4 separate regions of the Homo sapiens genome follow, and regions 2, 3 and 4 are each linked to region 1. Evidence: fine-mapped expression QTL. A gene starts in region 1. Each other region holds a variant in brackets. All regions are shown on one strand. Distances are from middle to middle. Region 1 holds the start of NDRG1 (N-myc downstream regulated 1). Region 2 overlaps NDRG1 (N-myc downstream regulated 1). Region 3 holds the start of LOC105375771 (a long non-coding RNA gene). Region 4 overlaps CCN4 (cellular communication network factor 4).

What was found. PIP is the estimated chance that this variant, and not a neighbour inherited with it, causes the effect.
Region 2: its variant is fine-mapped to the expression of NDRG1 in whole blood (TOPMed, PIP above 0.99).
Region 3: its variant is fine-mapped to the expression of NDRG1 in lymphoblastoid cells (GEUVADIS, PIP 0.92).
Region 4: its variant is fine-mapped to the expression of NDRG1 in whole blood (INTERVAL, PIP 0.97).

The regions. Positions count from the first base shown.
Region 1 is chr8:133,293,890-133,301,923 of GRCh38, reverse strand. NDRG1 (N-myc downstream regulated 1) reads left to right here and starts at 4,672. Exons shown (of 16, transcript NM_006096.4): 1 at 4,672-4,790. RefSeq lists a silencer at 4,342-4,791 and an enhancer at 6,988-8,034.
Region 2 is chr8:133,234,728-133,242,761 of GRCh38, reverse strand. NDRG1 (N-myc downstream regulated 1) reads left to right here. Exons shown (of 16, transcript NM_006096.4): 15 at 688-739; 16 at 3,643-5,587. The coding sequence ends at 3,884. Among named protein-coding and RNA genes, the nearest start is that of CCN4, 48 kb to the right of the region's middle. RefSeq lists an enhancer at 7,680-7,749. The variant G/A (reference allele first, on the strand shown) is at 4,575.
Region 3 is chr8:133,372,052-133,380,085 of GRCh38, reverse strand. LOC105375771 (a long non-coding RNA gene) reads left to right here and starts at 2,418. Exons shown (of 3, transcript XR_001746096.2): 1 at 2,418-2,530. RefSeq lists an enhancer at 4,337-4,416. The variant C/A (reference allele first, on the strand shown) is at 4,330.
Region 4 is chr8:133,211,157-133,219,190 of GRCh38, reverse strand. CCN4 (cellular communication network factor 4) reads right to left here. Exons shown (of 5, transcript NM_003882.4): 2 at 6,048-6,327. It overlaps LOC102723635 (a long non-coding RNA gene), which reads left to right and starts at 6,204. Exons shown (of 3, transcript XR_428405.3): 1 at 6,204-6,292; 2 at 7,327-7,471; 3 at 7,652-8,034. RefSeq lists enhancers at 289-1,488, 6,216-7,415 and a silencer at 2,498-2,587. The variant G/A (reference allele first, on the strand shown) is at 3,938.

The sequences.
Region 1 (8,034 bases):
CAAAGAGAAACATCTGCATTTGCTCAGTTCTTCAACCAATATTTACTGAACTTCTCTACGGTCAGGTGTGCAAGATGCCAGGAGGGATGAGACAAGATGATGATGATGATGATGATGATGATGATGATGGTGATGATGACAGTGAGGATGAGGGTGAACACTTTAATGAGAGCCTTCTATATGCCAGGGACTGTTCTAGGCACTTTACATATATTAACACATATATTTATCACAATGACCCTGTATTGTTATGTGTATCTTATACATGAGGAGGCAGAGGAAGGAAATGAAATAACTTGCCCAAGAGCATAGAGTCTGCAAGTGGCAAAGATAAGATAGAAATAATTCTCCAAGAGCAGAGAGTGGTGACTTCTGGGGATAGGGAAGTGGAAAAGTGGGGAGACAAAGGCTGTTGTTTTTCCTAACAAGTTTTGAAGACTTATTTGACCAGGTTCAAGAAAAACTTGATAATCACTACAAAGTAAAAGGAAGAGGAGATGAGGTGGGCCTTTGGGTACAGATGCTTGTTTTGGAAAGTTTAGGGAGGAAGGGGTGAGAGGAACTGGGCTGCAGTACAGGAATGGGGGACTTGGGAATCAGAGGGGATTGGTTAGGGTGGGTCATTGATTGCAGTGAATGTTTACTTGTTGATTGGGCTGCAGTACAGGAGTGGGGGGCTTGGAATTAAGAGGGGATTGGTTTAGGGTGGGTCATTGATTGCAGTGAATATTTACTTGTTGATTAGTTTGATCCAGAAGAAAGGGAGAGATGGATGCTGGAGGAGAGAGGGGGTCCCGAGGGAGCCCAGGACTGGAGGTGGGAAGACACTTTTACGGACACTTTTTCATTTTGACAGACAGAAAAGATGATGGTCTGCAGCAGTAGACCCATAAATTGTGATTGAAAGGTCTGATGGTTTCTCTCACTCGTTTCCTCCATGCACAGAGAGGTGGAGTAATTTGCCCCAGGTACTACAGCTCATAAGTGGTGAAGTTGGAGCTGGGGGCCACAGACCACCGGGTTCTTCTCCATGAATCCCTGCTGCATCTTGGTCTCTCCCAACCCCGAGTACCCATGAGTTTTAAGAAAGACAGTTGGGAACAGGTGATTCCTATGGTCATTTTTGGAACATTTGGTTAGAATATTCTAGTATAAAATCTAAGTTGTTGTTAAGTAGAAATTTCCAGTGGACATTAGTCCAGAAAATCCAATCTCATCCTGTGACGGATTTGCAGCGCGTGTGCATTTACTAAGCAAATCTGATTCTACTGCTGACCAGCGAGAAAGAGGAATAATGTAAACAGTCAGTGCAATTGCACCCACATTCAGCTCCGTGAGCTTCTGCCACCTCAGCTGGCTGCGGTGGGGGATGTGGAGGTGCATGCAGCTCCCAGGTCCCAGTGAGGGGCCTCTGTATAGGGTGGGCGTCCTCTATGCTTTATGTGCATCCAGGCCTGTACTAAAGACAGTCTTTCTCCTGCAGCGTGACACTTAGCTAAGAAAACTACTTCATCTGGTGCTCAGCGGAAGAAAACATCCTTTTCAACAGGGAAGGAAAATTGGCTGTGTTGGGCTGAGGGAGGGGAGTGTGGAATCCAAATGGTGTCTTCCTCAGGCCTTCTCCAAGGTGATGTGGACTCTGATTTTAGAATGCCATCACTTGGAAAATTGTGTTCCATTGCTCAAATTCTTGCCTCCCTTCTCTGCTCTTTTCTCTTCACTCCACTCTCCTTCCTCTGTCTTCTGACCTATTCAATGCTAATGGTCTTCCAGAAGGTTAGGCTTCCCACACAAGCCCAGCCTCCTGCCAGGCAACCTCCTCGGGGTTTCAAGCTGCAAATCTGGGCTGCTCTTCGCATTCTGTCCTGAGGACCTCCTCAAAGAGACAGGCAAGGGCCTCCCCTGGCAAAATGCCCTTCTAATTCCATGCACTAGTTCCATTTGTTACTGAAGAAGTGGGCCGCCTTCCCTGCGCCTTTGAACTTGACATTCCTTATCTTGACACTCCGCACTTTTGAACTTGACACTCTTGTATCTTTAGCAGGTAAAAAACCAAAGGTGCTCACTCAATAAATCGCCGCAATGGGGAGCCTATGGGAAAATGGGTATGTGTAAGCTGGCTAAAGGATAACAGGCACACAGGCTGCTTGATCTGGGAGGGTCTTTAGACAGCAGGATGGCTCCCAGAGATGCACTTTTGTTGTTGCTGTTGTTCATGATCATGTCCCCAGGGTCTAGAATGGTGCCTGGGCATAGTAGGTCCTTAATATAGTTAGGGAATGAATGAGTTCATCTCAACCACGCTGTATGGATGGAGAAACTGCGTCTTGGGGCTGTACCATGCTATGCACCTGTAGAAAATGTTTTTGCCTTTTCAGTCCTTTCCCAGTGGCGGAGTACAGGACCCAGCTCATAAGAGCAGCTCAATTCTGTCATTTGTGGAATGACAGAATAAATAAGTTTCAGGGCCTAGGGAGGCAAGGCTCCTGCCTTAGCCTCCCAAGTAGCTGGAACTACAGCTGCATGCCACTAAGCCCACCTGATTTTTTATTTTCTTGTAGAGATGATGTCTCATTATGTTGCTCAGACTTTTCTGGAACTCCTGGGCTCAAGCAATCCTCCCACCTCTGCCTCTGAAGTAGCTGGGACTACAGGTACTTGCCACCAGGCCTGGCTAGCTTTCATCTTTTTTGTAGAGATGGGACATCACTATGTTGTGAAGGCTGGTCTCAAACTCCTGGACTCAAGAGAGGCTTCTGCATTGGCCTCCCAAAGTGCTGGGATTACAGGTGTAAGCCACTCTACCTGGACACAACATTTTATTTGAAATAAGAAAAATTTTCCCTCACTGGGAATGCTGCAGTTGAACTAGTTCAAATCCATAAAGAATGGAAGACTGCCCAGTGGTCATTCATTCACTTATTAATTCTAGATGTTAAATTTTCTAGGGTGGGGGAATGTGCTCCTACATTCAAGGCATTCTTGAATGTAGCCAAACTTTGTAGTTTAGCCAAACTTCATAGCTAATAGCCAAACTTTGTAGTTTAGCCAAACTCTTCTAGCAGCAAAACCCATGACACTGGAACTCTGTTCTTCACACTGGTCATTTGTAATAGAATAACAGAGCTTTAGCACTAGATAGGTTCTGAAAGATCATTGAATCTAATCCTCTCCCTTTGCCAGTGAGAATTCTGAAGCCCAGATTTGTTGATTTGTGATCGATAGTGTCAAAGACAGGCCTGAAACACAGATGTCCTGGGTCCTAGAGGTGCTGTTTGCCCCTCTCCATATTTCTTTTGTTCCAGAAAACCCTTCTCCAAAACTGGCCCTAATAATCAGAGGGGAAAGCCATGGCCCCTGCCTTGGGGACAGCATGGGTTGGCACAGAAAAGAGGTTTACAATTCAGCAGGAAGTGTTGTGCGTGCGCGCGTGTGTGTCTGTGGAGGCGCAGGGAGGGTCACCTGAGCTTGCCCTGGGTCTGGTCCTGGGCTCAGTGGCAAATTCAACGCTGGGCAGGTGGCCTGAGGACAATGACGGTGCCAGCTGTGAGTCAGACTTCCTTTATTCATAAAATCATGTTCCTCCATGCAGTGCTTCTCAACCTGGCTGCACGTCAGGAGCCACCTGGGTAGCTTTGTAAAAACCCCAATGCCCAGTTGGTTTGCACCCCCTGAGATTCTGATTAAACTGTTCTGGAGTCCATCTCTCTCTTTTTATTATCTATCTATTTATTTATTTTTTAATTTGGCGGCTCCTCTGGGACTTCTCATATGCAGTAGGGGTTGAGAATTGCTGGTTTCTTTGGCCAGATGGGAACATGCAGGCCAATAGTTACGCACAAACAGAGCAGCAGAGCAGGACGGTGCTAAGGTTGGAAAGGGTGAGTCATGAAAGTTCAGGAAATCAGAATAGGAAGGGGTGAGAATCCTCTCATCTGGGCTTGTGGGGCAGGAGAGAAGAGCCCAGTGGGCAAGGTCCAGTGAGTGTGCTTAGAACTGGGAAGATGAGGGGAAGGGTAAGCGCTGGGCGGCGGTGGGCAAGATGGACGAGATTAAACGGGAGCGAGGATTTCAGCGAGAGCTTTGGCGACACGGAAGGCTGAGAATCGGAGGGAGCCTGTCGGGCGAAAGCGAAGGCGGCTGCTGGGCAGGCAGCCGAATCCGGCTGGAGAGCCGAGCTGGTGAGACCTACAGGAAGTGAAGGGAGTCGCTCAGGGCGTGGCGCAACGAGACTCTTAGAAGAAACTCTGAGGCAGAGATGGGGGGCCTCCGCCCATACGGAGACACAAGGAAGTCCACATGCACACGCACGAGCGCGCACATGAACACGCACAAGCACACAAACGCCTCCTCCGGGCAGGGCACACGCGCCCGCTGCACAGGCCGAGGCCCTGGACTCGGAGGGGACTGCAGAGCCGACCCACAACCCGGGCCCCGATGCCCCTCCCGGCCGCGCCCCTACGACTGCTTGCGCAACAGGCGGCGGCTCCAGTGGGCGCCCGCCGCGCGCTGCCGGAGCCCAGCCCAGCCCGGCGCGCCCGGGAGGAGGGAGCAGGGAGCGGGGAAGGGGTGTGTCCCGGCTGCGTGCTGGGACTGCGAGGGTCTGGGAGGGGCGAGGCGCGGGGGCGGGGCCGCGGCGCCTATAAAGTCGCCCTCCGCCCGGACGTAAACAAACCTCGCCTGGCTCCCAGCTGGTGCTGAAGCTCGTCAGTTCACCATCCGCCCTCGGCTTCCGCGGGGCGCTGGGCCGCCAGCCTCGGCACCGTCCTTTCCTTTCTCCCTCGCGTTAGGTAAGCCCGCGCCCTCTTCTCCCAGGCGCGACGCGGAGCAGAAAGGGGCCGCCCGTGCGGTGCCGCTGGAGCGCCAGGACCGCCCTTTGTAGCCCCGCGTACTCCAGGAGTAAGCGCCCCGGAGCTGCAAGTGCGCGGTCACCCCGGGGCGCGGGCGCGAGGGGGCTTTGGGTGCAGACACCGCTGAAGTGGGGGGTTCAATTACGGAAAGGGAGGAAAAAAAGACAGGGTCCCATTCATCTCCCCCCTAGCTGGGGATTGGGGTTCTGGAGGTCGGGAAGGGGGCGATGAGACGGTCCGAAAAAATACCAGGATAGCGTTTCCTGGCGTCGTCTCCGAATCCCAGCTGGCGCCGCTGGCAGGGGTGCGCGCTGGACGTGGGTGCAGAAGGGACTAGGTGAGTGTGTGTGTGTGTGTGTGTGTGTGTGTGTGTGTGTGTCTGTGTCTGGGAACGGAGAGATTGCGCGCGAGTGTGTAGATGAGGGGTTGGTAGAGGTGAGTGGCGCTGGCAAGGAGGCTGGAGAGGGGGGCGTGGGTGTGTCTGGCTTGCAGACTGGGTCGGGAACGGGTGTGGATCCGAGAGGCTGGTGGCGCTTCAGTCCCGTAGCACACACAGGGCGGTGTGCATGTGTGAGTGTAAGCGTGTGTGTGGGGGGAGGGTCCAGGGTGTGTCACAGTGCAACACGCGAGCCGGAGCAAGTGTCTGCGAGCGCCACTGGGCAGGGTGCGCCCCCGGAGGAACCCGGGATTGGCGCATCGGCGGCGTGGGAGAAGTGACCTGGGCGAGAGGGGTCTCGCGGACATTTGGCGGCCCCTTGAGCTGGCTGGAGCTAGGAGTGGCGTCATTTTCGCCTCCGCCCACCCTCCCCCGCTTTCCTCCCCTCCCCTGCCTCTGGTGCTGGCCGCTCCTGCCCTCCACGGGGGAAAACAGCTGGAATTACTTCGACGTTCCTGGGGGATCCGCCGCGGTCTCTGATTCAGCCTCGGGAGGAGATTTCGGGCTGGGCTTGGGGAATGCGGCTGGTTCTGGGGGAAACACGCTGTCACGCCTCTGTCAAATTAGTAGCTGGAGCTGGGATTTAGTGGGTCGGTTCCTTACCCACCCCTCCCCCATATCCCCCGCCTGTTGTCCCTGCTGTCCCTGGGGGTCCTGAACAGCACGCCTCTGTGGCTTGGAAGTGGGAGATGCCTGGCAGTGGGTGGGGGAGGCAGGGCCCTTGGTTATCTTATGCCCATCCAAGAACACCCCTTCCTCACGGACGCTGGGGGCACTTCAGTTTGTTTGGTTTCTTTAAGCTACTGGGAAATATCTAATATTCAGAAGTCAGCCAGTGGCCAGGCAGGAGGGCGGTAGACATCCTTATAATACCCATCAGCTGCACGGGACCTTCTCCTAAGCTGCCTCAAAAGAACATATCTAAATACAAACCCCCTGTTCTTGCTGCAGAAATGTAGTTTCAAGGCGAATTTTTCAGTCTAGACTCTTCCTGTTGAGAAATTCTGGCGTTCTTATTGAGTTTCACAAATGTGATTGAAATAAGCAAGGTACAGAGGGGGCAAACCCCAGCGCCTTTCTTGGAAGGGCTGCCTTCTGGTGGGGAAGACACACGGCTGGAGACGCAGACCGGTTCTGTGTGGTGTGTGTGGCGGCAGAGCCAGCCCCAGGCTGGGGTGGCACAGTGTCGGGGATGAAGGAAGGTGTAAGGGAGAGAGAGGGTTTTGGTGTGGATGGAAAACTGGGTGTTCCCCTGACCTGTGACTTCTTAGCTTTGTGGGACCGTGTCTCCCACTGCATCTGGGCAAGGAGGAGGATTTGCCTGCCCTGCCCTGTAACCTGGCCCCTGGCCCAGCGCCTGGCAGGTGGGAGGAGTTGAAATATGCACATGGGATGAAGTGGATGGCTCTGGGTCTTCTGCCCCATTCTCCTGTGAACCAGCAGGTTGAGTTTCGGGCGAGGTAATAGACTGTGCATGGGTGGAGGTGTTGGCTTTTGCTTTTGAGGGATCCTGGAGTGTCTGTTTGGGTCTCTTGTGAGGAAGTTCTTTTGGAGCAACAAAGTTTGATCATTTGGAATGGAATAAAAAACTCACACAGGACCTACCTAGTCCAACTTCTTTCCATTTTACAGATGGAAAATGAGGCACAGGGATGGGGAGGGATGTGCCCAGGCCGAACTGAGCTGGAGCTCAGCTTTGTGAGAGGCTCCTGGGTGGGACTGAAGGCAGTGGAAAGGGTTCCTGGCAGGATTTTGCCTGCCTGCTATGGAGGGGCGAAAGGAAATTGCATCTTCATTGAATTTCTGGTGAGGAAACTTTTGAGGCCAAAGGGGCAGAGCGGAATGATTTTTTTTAAGTGTAAATCAGGTGTTCTTGAGAGATTAGCAAAGCCAGCCTGAAGGGCAGGGGCTTAGAGGCTGCAGCCCCCTGAGTTGGCCTTTGACTGAATGGGGCTGCCCCCCCCCCATGACAGAAGACAGATCTCAACTGAGCTGAGGGCCCCCCTGGGTTACGTTGAAATCCGCTGGCCTGAACTTGCCTCCTCATGGACCTGAAAGAAAGATAGCATTGTGTTTTTCGGGTGGCCCAAAGCTGCAGTTCTTCCTTGGGACCCAACCCCAGAGAATCCCATTCCAGATGTGACTCAGAGGCCTTGTCCTGGGAGAGAAAGCGTGATGACTCAGCATCTGAGACTCAAGCAGGGTTCAGGTTTGACTCAGCCTGGAAGGAAGGCCAGGGAGGGACACGACATCTCTCTCCCTCCAGAGCAGCCACTGTCTCCCTCCATCTGCCTTCATCCTCGCAAGAACGTTGCCTGGATCGTATTGCTCCATTGAATGGATGAGGCAACTGAGGCCAGGAGAGTTTCAGGATTTGCCTGTTGCCATATGGCTCAGGTGGGAGAGCCAGACTTTGAACCCGGACAGTTGGACTTCAGAGCCTTTGTTTTTTTTCCATGACAACATGTTGGGGCGCCTGAAGAAATCAGGCTCAAATGAAAAGGCAGTCAGGAGCTCCATGCCTCAGTTTGCTTTTCTGTAAAATGAGAGTAACAGACATGATGCCATCAGAATGTGTAAATATTAATCTGTGTAACCTGAGAACAGCACTGAGCATGTGGAAAACAGCGTGTAGGTGTTTGCCGTCAGTAGCACCCGCAGAAGACATTCTCAAGGCATCTTCTTGGCAGGCAGAGTCTGGGACCCTTTGTCCTAAACCTACCCAAGGCTGTGAAAGTGCCTGCAAAT
Region 2 (8,034 bases), 59 kb after region 1:
ATCTTTCCTTCCTTCCTTCCTTCTCTTCCTTTCTTTCTTTTTTCCTTCCTTCTTTCCATCCATCCTTTTCTTTCCACCCATCCATCTATCCATCATCCCTTCTTTCAGCCAGCCTGCTATTGAGGCTGACAGTGATTTGCCTCAAGAACAAGTGTTTTAGGTTTGGAGAGCCCTGGGTTAATGTACAGGACCCACCACTTACTTGTTGTGGGACCCTGAGTGGATTTACCTGTCCAAATCTGTTCAGCTATGAAATGTATCTAAGGTAGCACTGACCTCGTGAGGGGTTGTCAGGAGTAAATGAATGAACGCAGCAAAGCCCCTTGCATTGGGAGTGGCTCATGATGCCGATGCAGTTATGTTCCACTTGCTGGGTTAGACATGTCCCTTTGTGGATGGTAATCTCCTCAGAAACACACAGAAATAGCTGTGATACTCTGCCCTGTATTACAGGTGAGGAAACTGGCTCAGACAGGTCATGTAACTTGTCCAAGTTCCACAGCTGTGGGGTGAATTTCCCATCATTGTCCCATACTCTTACTTTTGTGTTTTGTCCTGTCAACACGTGATGGCTTTTGTCTTGAGCCAAACTCTCAAATGAAGGTGACCACAGGCACAGCCCCCCATGGCCTCGGGTGATCTGGCTCCCCAGCAACTGACTGCATTTTCTCTCCTTGTCTCTCGCAGCCGGCCAAGCTCGCTGAGGCCTTCAAGTACTTCGTGCAGGGCATGGGATACAGTGAGTATGGCATTCCCCGTGTGCAGTGGGTCGGGGCATGTGTCGGAATTGGAAGTGCTCTGTCCTGAGCCAGGTTTGGATGAGCAATTCTGTGTCCCCCTGGCCAGCTTCAGCTTTCTGGGAGGAAACAGTTAGGTGTGTGGAGGGCATGTGGCAGCCTGGAGGATCTAGCCTCTCATTTATCAGTGAGGCTCATTTTTCCTCCTTTGTTGAATAGAAGTTGTTTCACACCAGGGATTTTGGGGGGTTTAGATGAGGACTGTCCCTTTAAGCACCAAGACAATGACCAACAGTGAAACAATAACATTTTTAAAAATTTTGATCACAAGTTTTAAGAGACCACTAGCTACAGTGATGATGAAGATGGTGTCGATGATGATGAAAGATTACTAACACATTATTTTATCTCACTGAACCATCACAGTACTCCTTTGACATATTCTTAGCCCATCTTATCAGTGATGAAGCTGAGGCTTCGGGGTTGTAAGCAGGGAGCAGAGGGCGGATCTGTGGAAATTCTTTGAAGACTGTGAAGCTCTGTGGAAGTGGCTAACAAAGTTGCTTACATTCAAGGTGGAGCATGCCATAGTCAAGTCATGAGCTTTGGGAAGTGGAGGATACATTGGAAGCATCATTCAGGAACTCACTCGTTCTTATTTTGCAGTTATAGTTTGTTAGACACATACAGCCTTTTTTCCAGAAGTGCTGTCCCAGGACTAGGACAGACCCTGGCGAGTTGTAACTCGGCTGAACAGCAGCCACACTCAGTGCTGTGGGCCTGTCAGCCATGGTCCGGCCCTGACATGACTAGTGGCTCTTCTGACCCTACTGCTTGGAACTATAATTCGTGTGTCCTCCCTTACTAGGAAGTTATTGAACTTCTGATCCCTTTTATCATTTCCTTAAACTGTTTGCCCATGTATAGTAAGAGTATGCTTGGTAAGCTGACTGCAGTCCTAGCATTGGCCTTAGCCATGATTAGCTCTAGCAAGGCGAGGCTGGCAGGTTTGATTTCCATGCCTCAGGCTCAGGCAGGATCCACATCCCCAGGTGCCCTCTTCCAACAGAAGCTATCTGCTAGTGGGGCTCCTGCCTTTCTAGCCTGCTTTCCCCGACGGAAGTTGCAGGCAAAGGTTGTCATTGGAGACAGCCATGGAGACAGCCGCGGGGCAGTCCTGCTTTACCCTGCACGGTGTGAATTGTGGCTCCCATTTGTCTTGGTCCCGCCAGGGTTTGGATTTCTGCTTTGAGAGTGTGTTCTGGAGAGAAAGGAAGTGAATGCTAGACCTCATCTTTCTCCCCAAATCGGCTTCTATTACCAGAAAGCTGAAGCCTCCTGCAGGTCTTGGGGGGAAAATAACAGGAAGAGCTATGGTCTCAAAGGCATCAGCCAAAGAGAAGGAAAGGAACCGGTCACTGGCCTTCTGCACACCACGGGGTGCTGGCTTGATGAACCCTTTGCACACCTGGCATCAGTGCTCACTGTACGCTTCTCATCCTGCTCAGTAGACATCCCAGATTTGTGGGTGAGAAGTAGGGGCTCAGAGAAATATGTGAGCTGCGGATGTGGCATTGACCCCAATTCTTTCTGAATTCAAAACTAGCTCTTTAAGACAATTCAGCAAGGATTAATTCTGTTTGGGAGTGCCTGACATCAAAAGCCCCTCCCTGTGCCTATCAAGGAGATAACATAAGCCCTGCATGCTTGGTGTGGATCAACTGCCCCTGTTTCTGATGTCTGACTCAGTGTGGCCTCCTAGCCATGATGCTTCAGTTGGGTGGAGTACTAGTTTCCTAAAGCTGCCGTAACAAATCTCCACAAACTGGGTGGCTGAAAACAATAGAAATCCATTCTCTCAAAGTTCAGGAGGCCTAAAGTCCAAAATCAAGGTGTGGGCAGGGCCTTGCTCCCTCCAACGCTGCTGTGGAAGAACCTTCCATGCCTCTTCCTGGCTTCTGGTGGCCCCAGCAATCCTTGGCTTTATGTGGCTTGTGGCTGCATCACTCCAATCTCAGCCTCTGTCTTTGCGTGGACTTCTCCCCTGCATATCCCTGTGTGCTGTTTCTATAAGGACATCACAGTCATTGGGTTTAGGGTTCCCTCTCAACCCAGGATGATTTCATCTCAAGATCCTTAACTAATTACATATGCAAAGACCCTATTTCCAAATAAGGTTCCCTTCTGAAGTTTCAGGTAGGTGTGAATCTTCCGGGACACTGTCCCACCCGGTACAGGTGGGCAGGATTGTTCCTCCTCATTCCACCCCATCAGCACGTGCTACCCCATCAGCATGTGCCACTTGCACGTGCCATGTGCAAGAGCATTTGAGGTCTCAGAGAAGATCCCAAAGAATAGACAGCGCCCTTGTTAGCACCTGGGCTGACAGGCTTCTTTGGGAGAGATGACAACGAATAGCCATGCCGGGAACTTGCCGTGTGGCCCCTCTCCCTTTCCCCACCTGTGATGTGCAGGGCCACTGACCCCAGGTGTCCTCCCTGCTCCAGTGATCATGGACAGCATGGGGTCATGGGCGTACACACAGGTGCTGATACCAGGGGTCAGTATTTAACATACTTGCTTTACAGATGGGAACAGGGAGGCTCAGGGGGACACTCTCAAAATTACACAGCTTTTAACAGGTGGCAGAATTGGGGTTCAGACCCAGATCTGGGTTCAAGTCACTCATGGTGTGATTGCGGCAGTTCCTTCCCGCATCTGGGCCTTGCCATCTCTCTCTCCGAGTGGACATGGAGAGGACGGGGGCCCAGCAGCTGGATGGCTGCAGGGATCAAGTCTTCTCTGGGGCTGGCACGTAGAAGAGCATGTGGCTGGTGGACGGGCATGCCTGGCTCCTCACCTGGCAGTCTCCTGCCCTCTAACCGGCTGTCTCTTGTTCCCCTAGTGCCCTCGGCTAGCATGACCCGCCTGATGCGGTCCCGCACAGCCTCTGGTTCCAGCGTCACTTCTCTGGATGGCACCCGCAGCCGCTCCCACACCAGCGAGGGCACCCGAAGCCGCTCCCACACCAGCGAGGGCACCCGCAGCCGCTCGCACACCAGCGAGGGGGCCCACCTGGACATCACCCCCAACTCGGGTGCTGCTGGGAACAGCGCCGGGCCCAAGTCCATGGAGGTCTCCTGCTAGGCGGCCTGCCCAGCTGCCGCCCCCGGACTCTGATCTCTGTAGTGGCCCCCTCCTCCCCGGCCCCTTTTCGCCCCCTGCCTGCCATACTGCGCCTAACTCGGTATTAATCCAAAGCTTATTTTGTAAGAGTGAGCTCTGGTGGAGACAAATGAGGTCTATTACGTGGGTGCCCTCTCCAAAGGCGGGGTGGCGGTGGACCAAAGGAAGGAAGCAAGCATCTCCGCATCGCATCCTCTTCCATTAACCAGTGGCCGGTTGCCACTCTCCTCCCCTCCCTCAGAGACACCAAACTGCCAAAAACAAGACGCGTAGCAGCACACACTTCACAAAGCCAAGCCTAGGCCGCCCTGAGCATCCTGGTTCAAACGGGTGCCTGGTCAGAAGGCCAGCCGCCCACTTCCCGTTTCCTCTTTAACTGAGGAGAAGCTGATCCAGTTTCCGGAAACAAAATCCTTTTCTCATTTGGGGAGGGGGGTAATAGTGACATGCAGGCACCTCTTTTAAACAGGCAAAACAGGAAGGGGGAAAAGGTGGGATTCATGTCGAGGCTAGAGGCATTTGGAACAACAAATCTACGTAGTTAACTTGAAGAAACCGATTTTTAAAGTTGGTGCATCTAGAAAGCTTTGAATGCAGAAGCAAACAAGCTTGATTTTTCTAGCATCCTCTTAATGTGCAGCAAAAGCAGGC[G/A]ACAAAATCTCCTGGCTTTACAGACAAAAATATTTCAGCAAACGTTGGGCATCATGGTTTTTGAAGGCTTTAGTTCTGCTTTCTGCCTCTCCTCCACAGCCCCAACCTCCCACCCCTGATACATGAGCCAGTGATTATTCTTGTTCAGGGAGAAGATCATTTAGATTTGTTTTGCATTCCTTAGAATGGAGGGCAACATTCCACAGCTGCCCTGGCTGTGATGAGTGTCCTTGCAGGGGCCGGAGTAGGAGCACTGGGGTGGGGGTGGAATTGGGGTTACTCGATGTAAGGGATTCCTTGTTGTTGTGTTGAGATCCAGTGCAGTTGTGATTTCTGTGGATCCCAGCTTGGTTCCAGGAATTTTGTGTGATTGGCTTAAATCCAGTTTTCAATCTTCGACAGCTGGGCTGGAACGTGAACTCAGTAGCTGAACCTGTCTGACCCGGTCACGTTCTTGGATCCTCAGAACTCTTTGCTCTTGTCGGGGTGGGGGTGGGAACTCACGTGGGGAGCGGTGGCTGAGAAAATGTAAGGATTCTGGAATACATATTCCATGGGACTTTCCTTCCCTCTCCTGCTTCCTCTTTTCCTGCTCCCTAACCTTTCGCCGAATGGGGCAGCACCACTGACGTTTCTGGGCGGCCAGTGCGGCTGCCAGGTTCCTGTACTACTGCCTTGTACTTTTCATTTTGGCTCACCGTGGATTTTCTCATAGGAAGTTTGGTCAGAGTGAATTGAATATTGTAAGTCAGCCACTGGGACCCGAGGATTTCTGGGACCCCGCAGTTGGGAGGAGGAAGTAGTCCAGCCTTCCAGGTGGCGTGAGAGGCAATGACTCGTTACCTGCCGCCCATCACCTTGGAGGCCTTCCCTGGCCTTGAGTAGAAAAGTCGGGGATCGGGGCAAGAGAGGCTGAGTACGGATGGGAAACTATTGTGCACAAGTCTTTCCAGAGGAGTTTCTTAATGAGATATTTGTATTTATTTCCAGACCAATAAATTTGTAACTTTGCAGCGGCTTGTGTCTTTTTTCTGTCCCTGAGAGATTGTGTGTGTGAAACATTGCAGTGCAGGGATGGCTGTTTCACTGGGGGGTTGCCCGTCCTTGACACCTAGGGGACCCCAGCCCCTCATCTCTGGAATTCTTTCCTCGGAGCATCACGTCCAGCAGAAATTTAAGTCAGCTCATATGTTAATTCTAATTTCCCAGTGGCCACATTTTCAAAAGTGGAAAGAAACAGATGAAATTAATTTTAATAATACATTTCATTTATCTCAAGACGTCTAAAATATTACCACTTCTATAAAAACTATTGACCAGGTATTTTGCATTCTTTTTTCATTCTAGGAACTCTAGTGTGTTTCACACTCGCAATGCATTCAGACCAGCTGCATTTCAATTGCCCAGTAGCTTGGGCAGCACAATGATGAGGATAAAAAACTTTCCAACCTATAATTCGAGGAAAACAGCTTTTTTATTTTTAATATTTATTTTTATTTTTTGAAACGTAGTCTCACTTTGTCACCCAGGCTCAAGTGCAGTGGCACAATCTTCGCTAATTGCAACCTCCGCCTCCCAGGTTCAAGCAGTTCTCGTGCCTTAGCCTGCTGAGTAGCTGGGATTACAGGCATGCGCCACCATGCCCAGATAATTTATTTTTATTTTTATTTTTAGTAGAGATGGGGTTTTTGCCATGGCCAGGCTGGTCTCGAACTCCTGACCTCAAGTGATCCGTCCACCTAGGCCTCCCAGAGTGCTGGGATTACAGGCATGAGTCACCGTACCCAGGCTACATTTTGTTTGGATTACAAACAAATGTATGTGGAAAGATCATTCCTTTTCTCATGCCCAGTGACAACCATTGTAATGCTTGTTTTCTACTCTACATTAAAAAAAAGAGATTTTAGTGTAACCTCTTATTTAAACTAAGATTAGTTTAAAATATACAGACAGTTGCAAACAATACAGAGAGTTGCCATATAGCCTGTACTTAGTGACCCCTGTCACTAATATCTGACGTTACTGCATACTTGTCACAACCGGGAGATCAGTTGGACGTTGCTGTTAACTAAGCCCTGGACCATATTGAGAATTCACTGGGGTTCCCCTAATGTCCTCTCTCTGTCCAGGATCCCATCTGGGACACCCCATTACATTTTGTCATCATGTCTCAGCTTCCTCTGGTTTGTAACAGTTTCTCAGATTTTATTTTATTTATTTATTTATTTATTTATTTTTACTTGAGATGGAGTCTTGCTCTGTCGCCCAGGCCGGAGTGCAGTGGTGTGATCTCGGCTCACTGCAACCTCTGCCTCCCAGGTTCAAGCAATTCTCCTACCTCACCCTCCCAAGTAACTGGGATTACAGGCGCAGGCTGCCACGCCCAGCTAATTTTTTTGTATTTTAGTAGAGACGGGTTTTCACTGTGTTGTCCAGGCTGGTCTCCAACTTCTGAGCTCAGGTAATCCACCCGCCTTGGCCTCCCAAAGTGCTTGGATTACAGGTGTGAGCCACCGCGACCGGCCAGATTTTCCCTTTTCTTCAACAGCGTTGAGAAGCACTAGTCAGACATTCTGTCACAAGTCTCCCCACTGAGGTTTGTAAGTAGTTTTTCTCACAGTACAACTTGGGGCTGTGGGTTTTTCGGGGAAACCCACAGAGGTGATTTGTCCTGCTTCTCACATCATATCCAGGCCACACGCTATCACTGTGGTTTATCACTGATGGGATTAATGGTGATGGCGTGGCTGGGGTAGTGTTTGCCAGATTTCTCTATCGTCAGGTTACCCTTTCCACTTTTCCATATTCATTCTTTGGAAGTGTGAACCCCCAAAATTTGAGACAGGTCTCTGTTAATTTAGAAAGTTTATTTTGCCAAGGCTGAGGACAGGCGCCTGTGACAGCCTCAGGAGGTCCTGACGACCTGTGCCCAAGGTGATCGGGGCACAGTTTGGTTGTATACATTTTAGGGAGACATGAGACCGCAATCCATACATGTAAGAACCATACAGCCGGGTGCGGTGGCTCACGCCTGTAATCCCAGCACTTTGGGAGGCCGAGGCAGGTGGATCACGAGGTCAGGAGGGAGGGAGGAGCATGTTGGCTTGTGATTATTCAACAAACATAAGAAGTGCCTTTCCTACTTTGTGTCCTGTGTGAGTCGGGAACTAAGATAAAGCGGGTGGTGAAGGAACTGGCGAGGAAGCATCACAGCAGGGGGGCTGTGCCAGCTTTGAGGAGTCAGTGTGGCACAGAGACTTGCTGTGGTCTGGCTTCCTCGAGGAAGGAACTGTTGCAGGTGTTCACATGTATCAGTGCTATTTAGAGCTACATGCCCAAAGGCTGTTTGGCCAGCTGGGGATCTGATTCTGGTCTCCTAGCTGCTTGTTTTGGTTTCAAATCTCCTGACTCTTGGGTTTCAGCAGCATCTGGGAGGCCAAATGCGTGCTGAGATTAGCAT
Region 3 (8,034 bases), 78 kb before region 1:
CCCATCCAAGTCTCATCTCCAATTGTAATCCCCCCATGTGTCAGGGGAGGGACCAGGAGGTTGGTGATTGGATTATGGGAGCGGTTTACCCCACGCTGTTCTCGTGATGATGAGTGAATTCTCACGAGATCTGATGGTTTTAAAGTGTGGTTCTTCCTCATTCTCCCACACACTCCCTCCTGCTGCCTTGTGAAAAAGGTGCCTGCTTTCCCTTCACTTTCTGCCATGATTGTTAAGTTTTCTGAGGCCTCCTAGCCACACTTCCTGGTAAGCCTGCAGAACTGTGAGTCAATTAAACCTCTTTCCTTTGTAATTACCCGGTCTCAGGTGGTATTCTATTTATTTATTTATTTGAGACAGAGTTTCACTCTGTTGCCCAGGTTAGAGTGCAGTGGCATGATCTCTGCTCACTGCAACCTCCGCCTCCCAGGTTCAAGCAATTCTGCCTCAGCCTCCCAATTAGCTGGGCTTACAGGTGCCTACCATCATGCTCAGCTAAATTTTTGTATTTTTAGTAGAGACGGGGGTTTCACTATGTTGGCCAGGCTGGTCTCAAACTCCTGACCTCAAGTGATCCACCTGCCTTGGCCTCCCAACGTGGTGGGATTACAGGTGTGAGCCACTGCGCCCAGCTTCAGGTGGTATTCTTTATAGTGTGAGAACAGACTAATTCACCAGCAACGAATGAGAGTTCCTTTTGCTCCACACATCCTCTCCAGAATTTGGTGTTGCCAGCCAGTGTTTTGGATTTTGGCCATTCTAATAGTGACATCTCATTAGACTTTAGTTTGCAAGTCTCTGATGACTTATGATGTTGAGCATTTTTTATATGCTTATTTGCCATCTGTGTGTCTCCTTTGGTGAGGTATCTGTTCAGGCCTTTTGCCCGTTAAAAAAAATTGTATTGTTTCTTTATTAAATTTTAAGAGTTCTTTGTATATTTTGGATAACAGTCCTTTATCAGACATGTCTTTCGTAAATATTTTCTCCCAGCCTGTGGCTTGTCTTCTCATTCTTGTGATGACAGGTGATTTTAAATTTCTTCTTCTTGATTATCTCATTTTAATAATTGTTTTGCAATACGTGTGCATCACTTGATTATTGATTTTTAATCTTTTTAAAAAGAATTTAAAAGTTGAGCTCAAAGCAGGAAAGGGAAGCTTTATATGTATGCCATTTAATAATATTTACACTAGCCCTGTGAGGCAAAAATATACCACTCTCATGTGTGTGTGTGTGTATATGTGTGGGCACATGTTCATGCATGCACAGGTGCAGAAAACCAGAGTCTAGAGAGGAAAAGTACCTGGCTCCAGGTCACACAGCTCGGAAGGGCCACCGGTAGATTTGAACGTGGCCCTGTCTGACTCTAGAACTTGTGGTACTTGTTTTACACAGAAGCGCACTCACAGAGGAGATATGGCTCTGCTGGCCCCTCTGTGGCACAAGCTGCCCCTTTTAGGACTCTGTGTCCACCACAATCAGCTTGGCATTGTCTTGCCTCTTGCATCTCATCACTTTCTTCTCAGCTCTAACTCCTAGAAATGATTCCGGATTCTTTGCAGTGACCAGCCCAGCTTCAAATCACTGATGACTGTCTCCAGGGCAAAAGGGGAAGCTCGGTGGGGTATGGGAGAAGCAGACAGGAATGGCCAGCACATAAAATAGGCCAGGAAGCCCCTCCCCTCCTTGCTCAGGGCAGCTCTCCCTGCTATTTCTGCCAACAGCCGGGCTAGCCCGGCCTGCAGCAGGCAAACCTGCTCATCACCTTGCTCATGGCCTTGAGCTGAGCTTAATGTGCCTCACCTGAGACTAGCCAGATACTGTGACTTAGCAGACAATGTTCTCGCCTGAAACCTCTCTAAAGCTCTAGCCCAGGGCTGGTCCCTAGCAGCCCCCGAATGCATGTCACATGCATGACACCCGGTGATTGGCTGGCCTCACAGATGCTTCCTCACCTCCTTCCATGGGTGCCACGTTATCACTGTTGCATCGTTGCTTTCTTGTTGCCACCCTTTCGTTCATTTATTGAACAGAAACGTATGGAGCACCTGCTATATGCCAGGCACAATTCTAGACTCCAAAGGTTCAATGGTGAACAAGAAAGTCCAAAACATTCCTTCTCTCATGGAACTTACTTTCCAATAGAAGAAGATAGACTTTAAGCAAAATAAATTTGTATCTTACATAAAGCTGCATATGAAACCCTGATCAGTGCCACAAAGGAAGAGAAATGGGAAAGAACAGGGCATGAGGTGTGTGGGAGGTTTGCAATTTTAAATAAGTAGTTCCTTTAAATAAGTATTTTTTTGTCCTGTTACCCAATAAAGCTACTTTTAAGCCTTCTTCAAAGTTAATCATACGTCAGCCTTTTACAAGCAGAATCACCTGACGCTTTTTATTTGTTTTCCCTTTAGGTTTTTGTCCCTCTCTTAAAGTGAATGGTCACAGAGCCATGAGCAGGTGGAAGATGCAGGTGGAGGCATCTTCCCTGTCACCGTTGGTATGTCTGGTTGAAACCTGCAACAAGGTATGTTTGGTGTTCTTGGTTGGGTAGGAGGCTGCAGTTGCAGCTTGGAGTTAAACAGGGGGCCTCAGGCCACCAAGGACAGAGCCATGTGGAAACCCTGTGCCCTGGAGCCTCCTGTCTGCAGTCTCTGTGTCCTCCTGCTGGGTCACCGGCCCTGGGCAGCAGCCTGCTGCACCATAGGGGGCTCCACCCACAGACCCCGCCTGTTCCTCACCATGCACCTTTGCCTCCAGCCACATTCTGCATGGGCCTTCTTGTTCCTCCACGTGGCAGTGCGGCTGCCGCCTGGGATTCCGGGCTGTGTCCCTTCCCTATCTGTGCTGGGACAGCATCCTTGCACAGCCTGACTTTGCAGCCAAGTCCTTTAACTAGTCATTCTGTTTTTTCCTTTCTGTGGCCAGTGCTTGGCTATTGAGCAGTCTCCCCCTGCGCCGCCTGTCCTGAACTCACCCCAGCTGTCCCTCCCCAGACCTCAGCAGAGCCCTCTCCTAAAGTCCCATGGTCTGAGCTTAACACCTCCCAGTGGCTTCCCAGTGCTCAGAGACTCAGGCGTCACCCAAGGTGCTCAGCGACAGGAGCATTGCTGACTCCACACGCCCCACACACCACTCAAAGGCCACTCACGTAATAACAAAGGTCGGAGTCCAGCTCCAGAACCTCAAATGCAAACCCCAGCTCTGCTGATTTCTAACCAGGCAGCAGTGGGCAAAGAATTCAGCTTGTCTGTGTCTCCTCATCTTAGAACTTTAACACTGGTGTCCTTTTCCCCTAGGGAAATGGATGGAATCATTGAGGTAATGCAGGCATAGCACTGAGAGGTGGACCTGCCATATAAGCGCTTGCAACTGTGACTAAAGCACAAAGTGGAAAGGGATTTGGCAGACAGTCAGGGTGGCCAGGTTCTCTGGCATTGCCACTTCCTGGCTGTGTGATCTTGGGCAAGTCTCTTGACCTCTCTGAACTTCACATTCTTCTGGAAAGTGGAGATGTGGGTCTTGGTGAGTTTTGAGAATCGAAAGAGCAGATGGAGGCTATAAACTGCTCTGCAAGTGCTAAAGCATGGTGCAAATGATGCTGTATGTCTTGAAATATATCAACTGTAGACAGTATTGATATTTTACATTTAAAATAAAATCAAATGAGATATTCAGTTTCTTTGTCACATGTCAAGTGCCCCATAGCCGCATGTGGCCTGTGACCATCACGTTGAAAGAGCACACCCAGCACCTACTCATTCATTCACCACACATTCCTAGGGCAGGGAGTCTGTCCCAGTGTCAGCCACAGTGCCCTGGGGACACAGAGAGCCACCGTTCTGTCCTAGGACAACATTATGCTGGTCCCTTCCCTCCCCCACCAGTCACCTCCCTTCCCTGTGCCTCAGTCTTCCCTCCCACTCTGTAAAATGCGCAAAAGGGGGTAGAGTTTGTCAATGATCCCACTCAGCATGGCTCATGAAAGAGAAATCACACAGTCTTCAGGGTTAGGCTGAGCTAGGTTTGAATCTCGGTTCCTTGCATAAGTCACAAACTGTCTCTGAGTCTCAGTTTCCCCACTTGGCCTGGCAGGATTGCAGAGAGGATTGCAGGAGGTAGCTTTTGTGGCACCATCAGCACAGCAAACTACCAGTCCTGCGTTTAATGCCTGTAGAGCGAGGTGAGGGTTGAATGGAGGCAGAAGGAACATGTGAGGTCCCCACAAAGAAGAAGAGAGAGATTGGGAGGGAGAGGCAGGGGCGGCTCTGTTGCTGCAGGCTGAGCTGCTGCAGGGGTGCACGTGGCGGGTGGCACGTTCCCTCC[C/A]CCCACTGGGCTCTGCATCTGGCAAGAGGTGGGGCACAGCTCGGACAGCTTAGCTCACGTGTTGCTGAGTCACCTCTGGGCCTTGAGGGATTCCTGGGAGGGGCGTGAGGTGCTGCACGTCTCCATGTGGGAGGAAGATGGGAGGTGGCTTCCAGCCTCAGCCCTCCCTTGCCTTCAGCCTTCCCACTGCCCTCCCCTTCTCCAGCCTGGAACAGTGGCCTTGGGATTGTGCCAGGCAGTGACAAGCACCCATGGCCTGGGCAAGCCCCGACGGGGAAAAGACCCTGGTTTCCCAGGTCCCAGCTAAGGGCCCACTTGGGGTTTAGGAGTTGAACCCAGGCCCTGCCCCAGCCCTCCTGGAGCCCAGCTCAGTGGAGGAGACAGGCCTATAATTCTACCCCAAGGTGCATGGATGTGAGGTGCCAGGCCCTGCCACCAGCAACGGTAACCCTGGGTGGGACTCTTTGCTCTCTGAGCCACAGCTTGCAGGTCTGAAAAATGGATACGAACACCTGCTCTGCCCAGTCTCTTCTGGACCTGAGGGCATGTGCTGTGCAGATGGCAGGGCCTCCGTGAAGTCAGAAGCTGAGGCTGGCTCAGAGGAGGCTGACTGCAGCGGGCCAGCCTGGAGCAGGGAGGGCACCTGATTCTCGCTGGGGAGAAGCCTGGCTTTGCCATGCAGAGGATTTGGATGATGGAGGACTTGGGACCTCATTTAATACCCCCGGCTTAGTTTCCTTCTCCCTCTTAAGGCAAAGTGTGTGCTGAAGGTGAGGAGAGGATGGCTGTGAGCAGCAGGGGCTTCCTGGGTGCCCAGGTGGCTTCCCCCTTACATGGCAGGTGCCTGGGTAATCTGTGGAGTCATATGGTTTCTCATCTGGCTACTGCGTGTCTCCTGTCTAGACTGTCAGCTGCCTGAGGGCAGGGCCCTTGAGGCCCCGTTTGCAGCTATACCCCCAATTCCTGAGCCCTCAGGAAATGCTTGTTGAATGAATAAAAGGGAGTGGATAGCAAAAGGCATGCTGAGAGTAGGTACACCCTCACCTCGTTGCCCCAGGAGGTCTTGTGTTTCCATAGGGGCAGTAACAAGGGTTGCTGTGAGACCCCAGCTGGGCACCAGATCCTGAGAAGGTGAGTGAGAGCAGAAGGTGGGTGAGAGCAGAAGGAGAGTGAGAGCGGAAGGTGAGTGAGAGCAGAAGGTGGGTGAGAGCAGAAGGAGAGTGAGAGCGGAAGGTGGGTGAGAGCAGACGGTGAGTGAGAGCAGGTGAGTGAGCGCAGAGGTGAGTGAGGGATCGGAAGTTTCTAGCAGCCTAAAAGCACTGAAAAAAAGAAGAGACTCATGTTTTCTCCCCAGGAGGCCCCAAGGAGTAACTGTGACATCGGGCGGCAGGGGTGGGGGGGGCAGTGCCGGTGAAGGACCCACCCCTGCCTGCAGAGCAGGACACTGGGCCAGCTCAAAGCAGTCAGAGCTGAGGAAGGGCATGGCAGACAGGCTTGGGTCTGGCTACATGACTCTGCCTGTGCTCTGCACCTCACCACGTGGGCCTCAGTTTCCTCCTCTGTCAAATGAGTGAAGATTGAGATGAATGAATATTATTATGGCACAGAGAAGACAGCTAATTGGGTTCAAATGGCAGAGTTTTGCTGCCATGAATTATCCCTTCAATAACTGCTGTTTAATTGAGGAATGACTCACCCAGAGAGAAAAATGCACAGAGTGTGTACATCTTAAGTGGATGTACATCTTAAGAGTGAGAATTTTTTACATATGTATACATCATGAAGCAACCACTGAAGTCAAGACAGAGAACATTCCCCGGCTTCGCAGACTCCTGGTGCCCCTTCCTGGTCAATATCTAGCCCTTCTCTGAGAAGCAACCCCAGCCTTTCTTTCCATGAGCTTGTTTTGCCTGATCTTGAACTTCCTACGAAAGGAACCCCACAATGCCTCTGTATCTTTGTGACTTCTGCCTTCTTTTTCGCCAGCCCATCTCCTACCCCCCCTTTCTTTGGTAAAGGGGCTTTGTTTGCCTTTGGTTCCTGTCCCTCCTTCACACTCAGTCCATCTAGTTTGGGGGACTCTCTCTGTCCCCCAGCCCCACCTCCAGAGATGCACACGTGAGCCAGCCTGGTTCATGAGCTTCCCACAGCTGCTGTAACAAATTGCCACAAAATTAGCAGCTTACAATACCACCAGTGTATTTTTTCTTTCTTTCTTTTTTTTTTTTTTGAAATGAGTCTTGCTCTGTAACCCAGGCTGAAGTGCAGTGGTGCCATCCCGGCTCACTGCAACCTCCGCCTCCCAGGTTCAAGCGATTCTCCTGCCTCAGCCTCCTGAGTAGCTGGGATTACAGGTGCGCCAACACTGTATTTTCTTAGAGCTCCAGACATCAGAAGTTTCAAATGGGTTTGGCTGGATCAAGAGGTGTCAGCAAGGCCAAACTCCCTCTTGGAAGCTCTAGGGGAGAATCATTTCTTTGACCTTCCCAGCTTCTAGAGGCTGCTTGCATTCCTTGGTAAAGCCGTTTCCTCCATCTTCAAACCATGGCTCAAACTATGCTTCCAAGGCCACCTCTTCTCTCTCAACTTCCCCTGATAAGGACTATTGTGATTATACCAGGGCCACCCAGACAAATGGGGAGAACGTCTCCATCTCAGGATCCTTAATTTAAATCTATCTGTAAAGCCTCTTTTGCCATAGAAGGTAACACATTCCCAGGTTTCAGGGATTAGCATGTGGACATAGGAGAAGGGGATGATGGTGCGTATACATTATTTAGCCAACGAGTGCATCTGGCCATGGCGAACATTCCTTTCCCTGGTCATTGTGACTGACTCTAATTGGACCATGACCCAAACCAGTCCAGTGAGAGTTGCCCAGAGGGCTTTTGCTGAAACTCTATAGGAAATGGTAACTGGGTAGGATACAAGCCTGAAGCTGCTGCGAGACCGAAACTTAATCATTGCTTGGGAAGTTTGCCTGACATTGAAGACAACATAAAGGAGAGCAGAGCCATGGCACATGGACATGGATACATGCATGAGCACACGTGTGCACACACAGGCACACACATGCACGCACACACATGCACACACACACGTACACACACACACACACACACACACATGCTATTCTGATGACAATGTCTAAATATCTGAATCCAGCCCTGCCTGAAGCTCGCAGCCCCTTCAGAATTTTGGGCCACATGAGCCAGAGTATTTTCCTTGTGTCTTAAGTCCATTTGAGTTGAGTTTCTGACACTTGGAATAGAAAGACACCTTAGAAACACATACCTATGATTCTGTTTCCCCAAAGACTCTGGAATTCAAAATGGGAACTTCTCAGACTGTGGCACTAGCCACATCATCTCTGATGCTCAGAACTTTCTGCCATGCAGTTTTAGGCTCCCTGGTTTATGGATTTCTCCCCCGTACTCCCCATTGCCAGAGCTCCTTCCTGCTCTACAGGTCACAGGATCACCCAACAAATCCCATCAGTTACACAAGTCCCGGCAAGAGGAACTGCACGTCCTGGGCTGCATTCACACATCTCTGAGCTGTCACCATGCTGCTCACAGGAAAAGAGCTACCATTTTCCTAGCTCCCTCCCACCTTGTACCCCAAACTCTGCTTCCATCATTTCATTTAACCCTGATAAGTTCCCTGTGGCTTGGGAATTACTAGTCCTGTTTCATGGTGGAAGAA
Region 4 (8,034 bases), 83 kb after region 1:
GGTGCTCAGTAAGCAACTGCTGAATGAATGATGAAAAGTATGCTTTGCAAGAACACTCATGGTGCTGAGTTGAGGACATGAGAACACTCACGGTGCTGAGTCAGAGGGCAAAGGTAGCATGGGGGACCACCCTGAGACCCAGGTGGGAGAGAGCGGTCTGAAGCCAGAAAGAGAAGAGCTCGGCTTCCAGACAGATTTGGAAGGAGAGCTGCCAGGACTTACTGACAGAGGGGCTGTGCGGGGGAAAGGAGAGGAGTCGAGAAGGAGGAAGATGCTCTGTCCTCTTTGGACAAGCAGGGTTTGGGTTGGGTGGACTCAAGTGTTCTCCATTATGCGTGAGATGGCTGGTTGACAACCAAGTGGCCATGTGGAGTTAGTTAAGCCAGTTTGGAGTCAGGGAGAGTTGGGGACTTCTGGACCAGATATCACCCTTGATACCATGCTCTCTCTGGAGGACAGCTTCTGGAAATGCAGGTAAAGAGCCCCGGACATCATGAGTGGCCACCCAAGGAGAAGCAGTTTGGAATCTGCAGTGGGCCAACAGTTCTGTCCTTCAGGGTTTGCCCGAAGGTGGCTGTTAATAATAGCAGTAATCCTAATGTCTAGCAGGCATGAAGGTTTTCGAAGTACTGTCTCTGTTATTGGATACTGGGTCTCCTCTGTATTGTGCATTGCATTACTTATTTTATTCTGTACAGAAACACTATCACATTATCATCTTTGTCTTTATATATAGCAAAACAAAGTCTCAGCAAGGTGAAGACACATAGCGTCCAAGGTGACCACAGCGGGAAGCAGAATCCCGGTTTGTGTGAACCTTGCTGCGGCTATTGTTTTTTTTGGGGTGCGGTTATCCGTGCAGGAGGTGCAGAAAGGAAAGATGCTAACATCAACTGACCCTCTGATCTAGTGCCAGGTATCATCTGATACATTATCTCATTCAGTTCTCCCAATGACTTCATGAAGAGTTTTATTTTTCTCCTTTGATGGACAGGAAAGCTCTCAGAGAGGTTAAATGATTCGTTTGTTCAAGGTCACGAAACTGTTGAATGATACAGCTGGGACTCAAACCCAGGAGACCTGACTCCACAGCCCATTTCCTGCCACCAGACACCAGTGAAGGAGGGGACAGAGGAAGGCAAAAAAAGCAGAGGAAGCGCTGGGTGAATCACTCATCTTTGCATTCTGAGTCACCCTGCCTCTGCCTGCACGCTGTCTCTCCAGGAAGAGTGTGTGTGTGTGTGTGTGTGTGTGGAGAAGGGAGTGGGCTAAGCCCGGAACTCTGTCCCTGCATGTGGAGACTTTGGAGGGAGAGGTCAGTGCTAGATGCCCGGAGTCCCCAGCACAGTGGCTTTCCCTACCAGCTGCACAGGGGAACCCCAGGGGAACCTGGGGAGCTTTTAAAAATTGTGATGCTCATGCCAGGCCTCAGAATATGGGGGTGAACCTGGGTGTCAGTATTCTTCTTTTGTTGATCTCCGTATTTTAAAAGTTCCCCAGGTGAATCCTGTTTGCAGCTAAGGTTGAAAACCAGTGCAACTAGAAGGCGCGCCAGTCTCTCTCCTTGGGGCTTTGGGTGGGGAAGTGAGATGCTGCTACTGGCTCTGACCAGCCTGCCCACCACAGGCTAGTGGGATGCATGACGGCTGCAGATGGTCCCTTCAGCTGACTCATTAAGTTTCTAACTAATCAAAGGCGAGATGGTGAAGACAGTTGGGTTTCCTTCACTACCTCCTATCTAATCTCAGATCTGCAAGTGCAGGTGTGATCGAGTTAGCTTTCCTCTTACTGAAGCACTTTCAGGAATTCAAGTCAACTTGCTCTGCCATCGGGGCCTTCCCTCCCTTCACACCTCCCATGGACTGTCAGCTCACGCTGTCAGCAGGGACAGTGGGCCATGCCTTGTTGTAGCTCTGTTTGTTTTTGCTGCCTCACTTATGTTTATTGTGTGAAGAATCAATGGAGGGATGGATGGATGGGAACTGGGGTGAGCTGTACTCTTTATTCAGCTCCTGCCATGTAGCAGGCACTTGACATTCTAACCACCCAGAGATATAAACTTTCTTTGTCACATTTTCCTTGAAGAAGAAACTGAGACTTAAAAGGCTAAGTAGTTCGCCTAAAGTCATAGTAATAGTGAGTGATGATGCTGGGATTCCAGCTGGGTTGTCTAGGTCCAAAGAGCATGCATGAATTTACTACTCCCTCACTCTTCAGTATGGGGGATCTAGGCCAGGAGCTAGACCTGCTCCCTCCTCTAAAGGTGGCCGTGAATAAGACTGAGGTAACTTTCCTTGCAAGGCAAGCCAAGAGCAGCCAATTACTTTTATTTTTATTTTTTGACATTTCCTTATTTATTTTGCAACAAGCATGTGAGGTTGGTTTTATGACACTCCTTAAGTGATGTGCACATGGTCACGTAGCTAGCAAGTGGCAGAGCCAGGATCTAAAACTCAAGTCTGTCAGCTTGTAAATATCATAATCCTTCCACCAAACCACACTGACCTCAGGCCTGACCCAGCTTCATTTAAACGTAGAGTAGTGTTTGTGCAACTGAAATAGCCAAATGATGTAACTCAGAGGTCACCCTCTGCCCACAGATGTATTTAGTTTGGCCCACAGAGTGGTTTTAAAAATATTTTTGAATGTATTGCCAATGTTTACAAATCATACACAAATCTATGTACCTGGATTCTCTTGAAAACTAAGCATGCTGAACAAGACCTAGCTTTTTTCTGCTTGGCCAGAGTGGCTGGGCCCAGTAGGGTCATCTCTGAAAGCCAGGGCTTGCACACACCAGATTGCCATTGTCCCCATCATACTCTGTTTGAGTTATATAAGCCAGGGTTGCAATGGCTCATTTTTATTACCTGCCTTGTTCTGGTCTAATTACATGCAAATCTTTAAGGACAGATTTAGCCTGTCCTAGGAACTGTCCATTTGCTTAGCTGACCATTTGTGGAAAGATTGTTTCTTAGAGGAACCGTTTGTTCTGTTTACCCTCTGGCCCAGAGGTGTATTCTTTTGCAGACCCCACACTCTCTTCTTTCCTGCATTAGGGTCTCATGAATTCAGACACTATGGTAGCACTTCCGGGAACATGTTCAATAGAGCACTAGTGAGTTGTGTTTGTGCATGTGTGGGCACATATGTGTGTGATGTGTATATGTATAACTGTGTGTTTGTGTGTGTGTGTGTGTGTGTGTAGTGTAATGGGTGGGTAAGGAACTATCTGACTGAAAAAATTTAGTATTAAATACATCTAAAAAATTTATTATGAAGCTTATGATACCTCTCTTTTGGAATTTGGCAATGGACATGAAAATTTGAAGCCTCTGAGAATTTCTATAGCTCCTGGTTAGCTTTATTTATCTCAATGCTTGTAAAACTTCATGACCAGGGAACCACTGGTAGGCGTAAAATCTATTACAATCTCCTTTAGCCTACAGTTTTTGTTTTTTTCAAATAAAAGGAAAGGAAGTACACAGAAGCCCATGGTGTTGGGAAGTTAAGTGGCTGTACTGGGTCAAGGCAGGACCTAAGATGCAGAGATAGGGGGTGAGGAGGACAGGGAAGGGGGTTTTCCAGGCCACCGGTGGGGAAGGCAGGCAGGACAGGCAGTTTCTGGGTTCACACAATCTTTGGATCCATGACAGAACATCTATAAATGAGTGGTGCCTGGCAGATGACAAGATCTCAATACAGCTTTAGAGATTAATGCAATGGTAGTGAAAAGAAGTATCTTTTTAATGACCTTGAAGAACAGTTTTTACTGGAAGAATAAATTATGAGACAAGCTCATATAACTGGAGGTGGTTCTAGTGTAAGAAGTCCAGGCCAGGTTTCCCTACCTGGGTTATGGGGAGGGAACAGATGACTGAGTATATTAGCAGCAATTCTTGAACTTTAGCATGCATGAGAATCACCTGGGAGTCTT[G/A]TTAAAGGACTAGATCCTCATTCCCACTTCCAGAGACTCTGATTCAACAAGTCTGGGGTGGGGCTCAAGAATAACATTTATAATCAACATATCAGATGATTCTGTGCAGCGGATGCTGCAAGTTCTCTTTGAACATACCATTTATGTGGCTGCTAATGAGTTTCAGTAAAAGAAGAAAAATTAGAAAGATGGGAGAAGTGGGATGGTTATTCACAGAAAGCCAAAGACACAAGGATTCGTGTGAAAGTTGAAGCATGAACCAATGATAAAAGAGAAGAAACTGTCATAAATTAACCATGTGGTTCAGATAAAATAAAATTGTCTGACTGCAAATGATGTACATAACCCTCATGGACAATCCACCTCAAAAAATATAATGGTTAGCTGAGGATGAGAGACTACGTTGTGTGTGACTATGTGACGGGGTGTATATGGAGTCATAGTTAAGGGGAAGGCTTGATTCAGCACTAAGGGAAGAAGGGAGTTTTTGGGTTTATGAGACTTTGTGGAAGTTTTCAGAAGTTAGGCTGCTGCATCATAATACCTAGGTAGCTCTCTTAATCTGATGAGTCATATATTTTGGGTAATGCTTACACAATTCAAGGGAATACAAGTCCGGACAGAAGCAGGGGGTCAGAAAGTTTCATAAAGGAGGTGTCTTGGAACAAAAAAGGATAGAATACCCGTGATGGAGCACTTGAAGACCAAAGAAAACAACAACTAACAACAACAACAACAACAACAACCACCTCCAAACAGGAGGATATCAGAATACACCAAGAATAAAGAAAAAGCAAAGGCCATTAGAAAGTCCAGGAAAAACAAAAGCATCATAAGGAAGTGAATTAAAGCCAGTTCCTGATCTCATACTGCAGTGAACAATATTTACCTGGTCATAATATTATAAGTACTGATGATTGTATAATCAAAAATTATGGCAATGTCATTTGGAAGGTAGGGGTTATATCAGGTGGTTATTGAGGAGCTAAATCATCAGCTATCTTAGAATATTAATATATTATCCAAAAATTGATATATCAAGGCAATTAATATATAGCAGAACACATACATTTTATAGTAGCAATTATATATATATAGTAGTTATATATAACTACTGTTATATAGTAGTTATATATAACTACTATATATACTATATATAGTTTATATAACTACTATATATAGTGTATATATAGTATGTATAACTACTATATATAGTGTATATATAGTATGTATAACTACTATATATAGTGTATATATAGTATATATAACTACTATATATAGTGTATATATAGTATATATAACTACTATATATAGTGTATATATAGTATATATAACTACTATATATAGTGTATAGTATATTTAACTACTATATATAGTGTATAGTATATTTAACTACTATATATAGTGTATATATAGTATATTTAACTACTATATATAGTGTATATGTAGTATATTTCCCCCTGTGAAAACTGTTCTTCAAGTTCATTAGAAAGATAATATTTATAGTGTATATATTATCTTTATATTATATTTCTATACTATATAGAATATATAGTATATTTCTATAATATACTATATTATATTTCAGAAGAAATAACTAGAAAATTTAAGTGACTGAAGTAACTGAGAAATGTAGGTAGCTGGTGGGAAGGGATGACTGCAGGCTGCTGATTTTCATTCTTTCAAGGCTACTGGATTTTTAAAACCATATTTTTTAATTTACAATATTACCAAAATATCTGGAGTTCTGCAGTATGCTGGTGTGTCCTAGTAGGCCATGGACATTTGTTAAAAGATCCTACCACTAAGAGAACAAAACCAGGCTTAGGTATTTCATGGCGTCTCCCTCTTCCCTGGGGACAGCCATGAATGTGCCTCCAGGACTGAGAATAAAGCAAGAAGCAAAGTTCTGGAGGCGAGAAGAGTGCAGGCATCCTTGCCTCCCCTTCCCAGGAAGGACCCAGCCTCTGGCCTCTGATCATGGGGTGTATCTCCTGCTGAACGGAAGCCTGGCCAGGTGAAAGGCTGTGGGGGTGCCAAGGGAGAGGGGTTTGGGGCCAGAGCTGGGGGTGCTCAGGGGCTGGTCAGAAGGTATGGAGGACTCACTTACGTGCACACACTCCTATTGCGTACCTCGGGCGGTCCCCGCTGTAGTCACAGTAGAGGCCCCGGTGGGGGTCACAGATGGCAGCCTCCGTGCAGTTGTCCCCAAGCTGCTGAGCGCACATCTTACAGCACTCACAGCCATCTGTGATGAGGCTGACCCCCAGCGGGCAGCGGGGTGGGGATGGCGGGCACTCACATGGCCACTTGCAGAATTGGGGGCGTGAGGAGGTGTCCTCCAGTGGAGCTGGGGTAAAGTCCATGGTCGTAGGGGCTGGAGAGAGGGCCTGCGGGGGGAGGGCAGAGGGAAAGGGGGGCTGCTGAGACAGGGGTTTCAACGCCCAAAGGGCCCTGCCATTGCATTCCTGTCCTCATGCTGTTCAAAAGGTTTTCATAAAATTATTTTTTCTATCACGCTTTTGATAGCCAAACATCTCCTTTATTCTCAGTAAAACAAATAGAACAGAGGAGCCCAACATGCAGCGAAGTTAAACCAATTGCCCGAATCCTTCCGCTGGTCAGCGGTGGGGCCCAAATTCCACCTCAGACCCTGCTCCTTTCCTTTCTTGAGTGATTGTCGCTGCAGCCCCGAGGTAAGGGAGGTGGCCTCACTTTACAGGGAGAAAGCCGAGGCCCTGAGCAGGTGGAAGCTGGCTGTGAGTCATGTGGCTGCGCGGGGCTCGGATCCCATGGCTCTTCTGTGACGACCTGCAGGGCCAGTTCCTTCACTCACCGAGAGTTCTTAAGGCCTCTCTGAGTCAGAGGACTCCTACTTAATACCGGTTTCGGCCCGCTGACCTATTATTATTTTTTTCCCCTCTGAGCATCCGGAAAGGGCTGGCGTGGTGCAGCGGCAGGTATTCAACTTTATAGCTCCTGGCAGCTACATGGGCCCCAGCCCTTGGGGAGTGAGTTGGCGCTTCCTTTGCCAGCACAAGCCCTACATGGAGGAGCCCTTTTATTTTGCTGTCAGGGCAATGAGACCCCCCACCCAACACATACACACTCCACTCTACCAACCCGCACTCCTCCCCAGCATCCCCATTCCCATCCCCCAGTCAACAGCTTCATCTTTATTTTGGCAAATATGATGGACACAAGAGGCCAGCTGGGAAGGGAAACCAAGGCCCTAAGAGCTGCCCAGGCCTGAGGAGCGGCAGATGGAGATGCCTGGGTGTCTGAGTGCAGGAGCTTCAAGCTGCCTGTATCTCCAGCACCCAGTCACCTGCTGTCCCATCTGGTTGCCCCCCTGAATCCCATCTGTGCCCTTTGCTCTATCTCGAAAGAGACCTGGGCCTGCAAGAGGAAGAGAATCGCCTGAGGACACAGGAGCGGGGACGGGAGCCAGGCTTTGAGTCAGTCCTCCCTCTCCTGGGCAAGCCATGGATCATCCTGCCCAGCACTTCTCGTCCTTGACGGCTGAGTTCTGAAGTAAGCAGAGGAGAATCCAGGGCTTCTGTGGGGCTGGGACAGGGGGCTGGCTGGGCTCTGGGCTGCTCCCTCCATCTGGAAGCAGAGGAGCCTGCTTTGTGGGATCACAGATCTGCTTTCCACTCGGAACACCAGGCTCCGGTGCTGAGCTACTCAGACAAATTCTTTCCTCCTTTACAGGGGAGGAAGGCAAGACCCGAAGAGACAGATGGACACTCCCAGGATGACACAGTTCACAGCAAGGCCAAGATGCAAATTAATCTCCTAACTCTCATTACAACAGCTTCTACTTTTGCCTCTTCTGGGTTCTTTCATTCACTCAACAGACATTTGCAGAGTTAGCTCATAGTCTCTCTTAAGTTTTAGATATTTGAAGATAAGCGTTAAAAGTCCCTATGATTGGGGAACCCACAGCTTATGGGAGAGGCAAGTATTAGAGGTGATTTACTACAACTCGAGGGATTTACTGCAACTCGAGGGATTTACTACGCAAAGTGCTGGGCATTCCAAGGAGGCATGGAAGCTCTCTGAACACCAGGGCAGTAACTGCTCTGCCCAGGAGA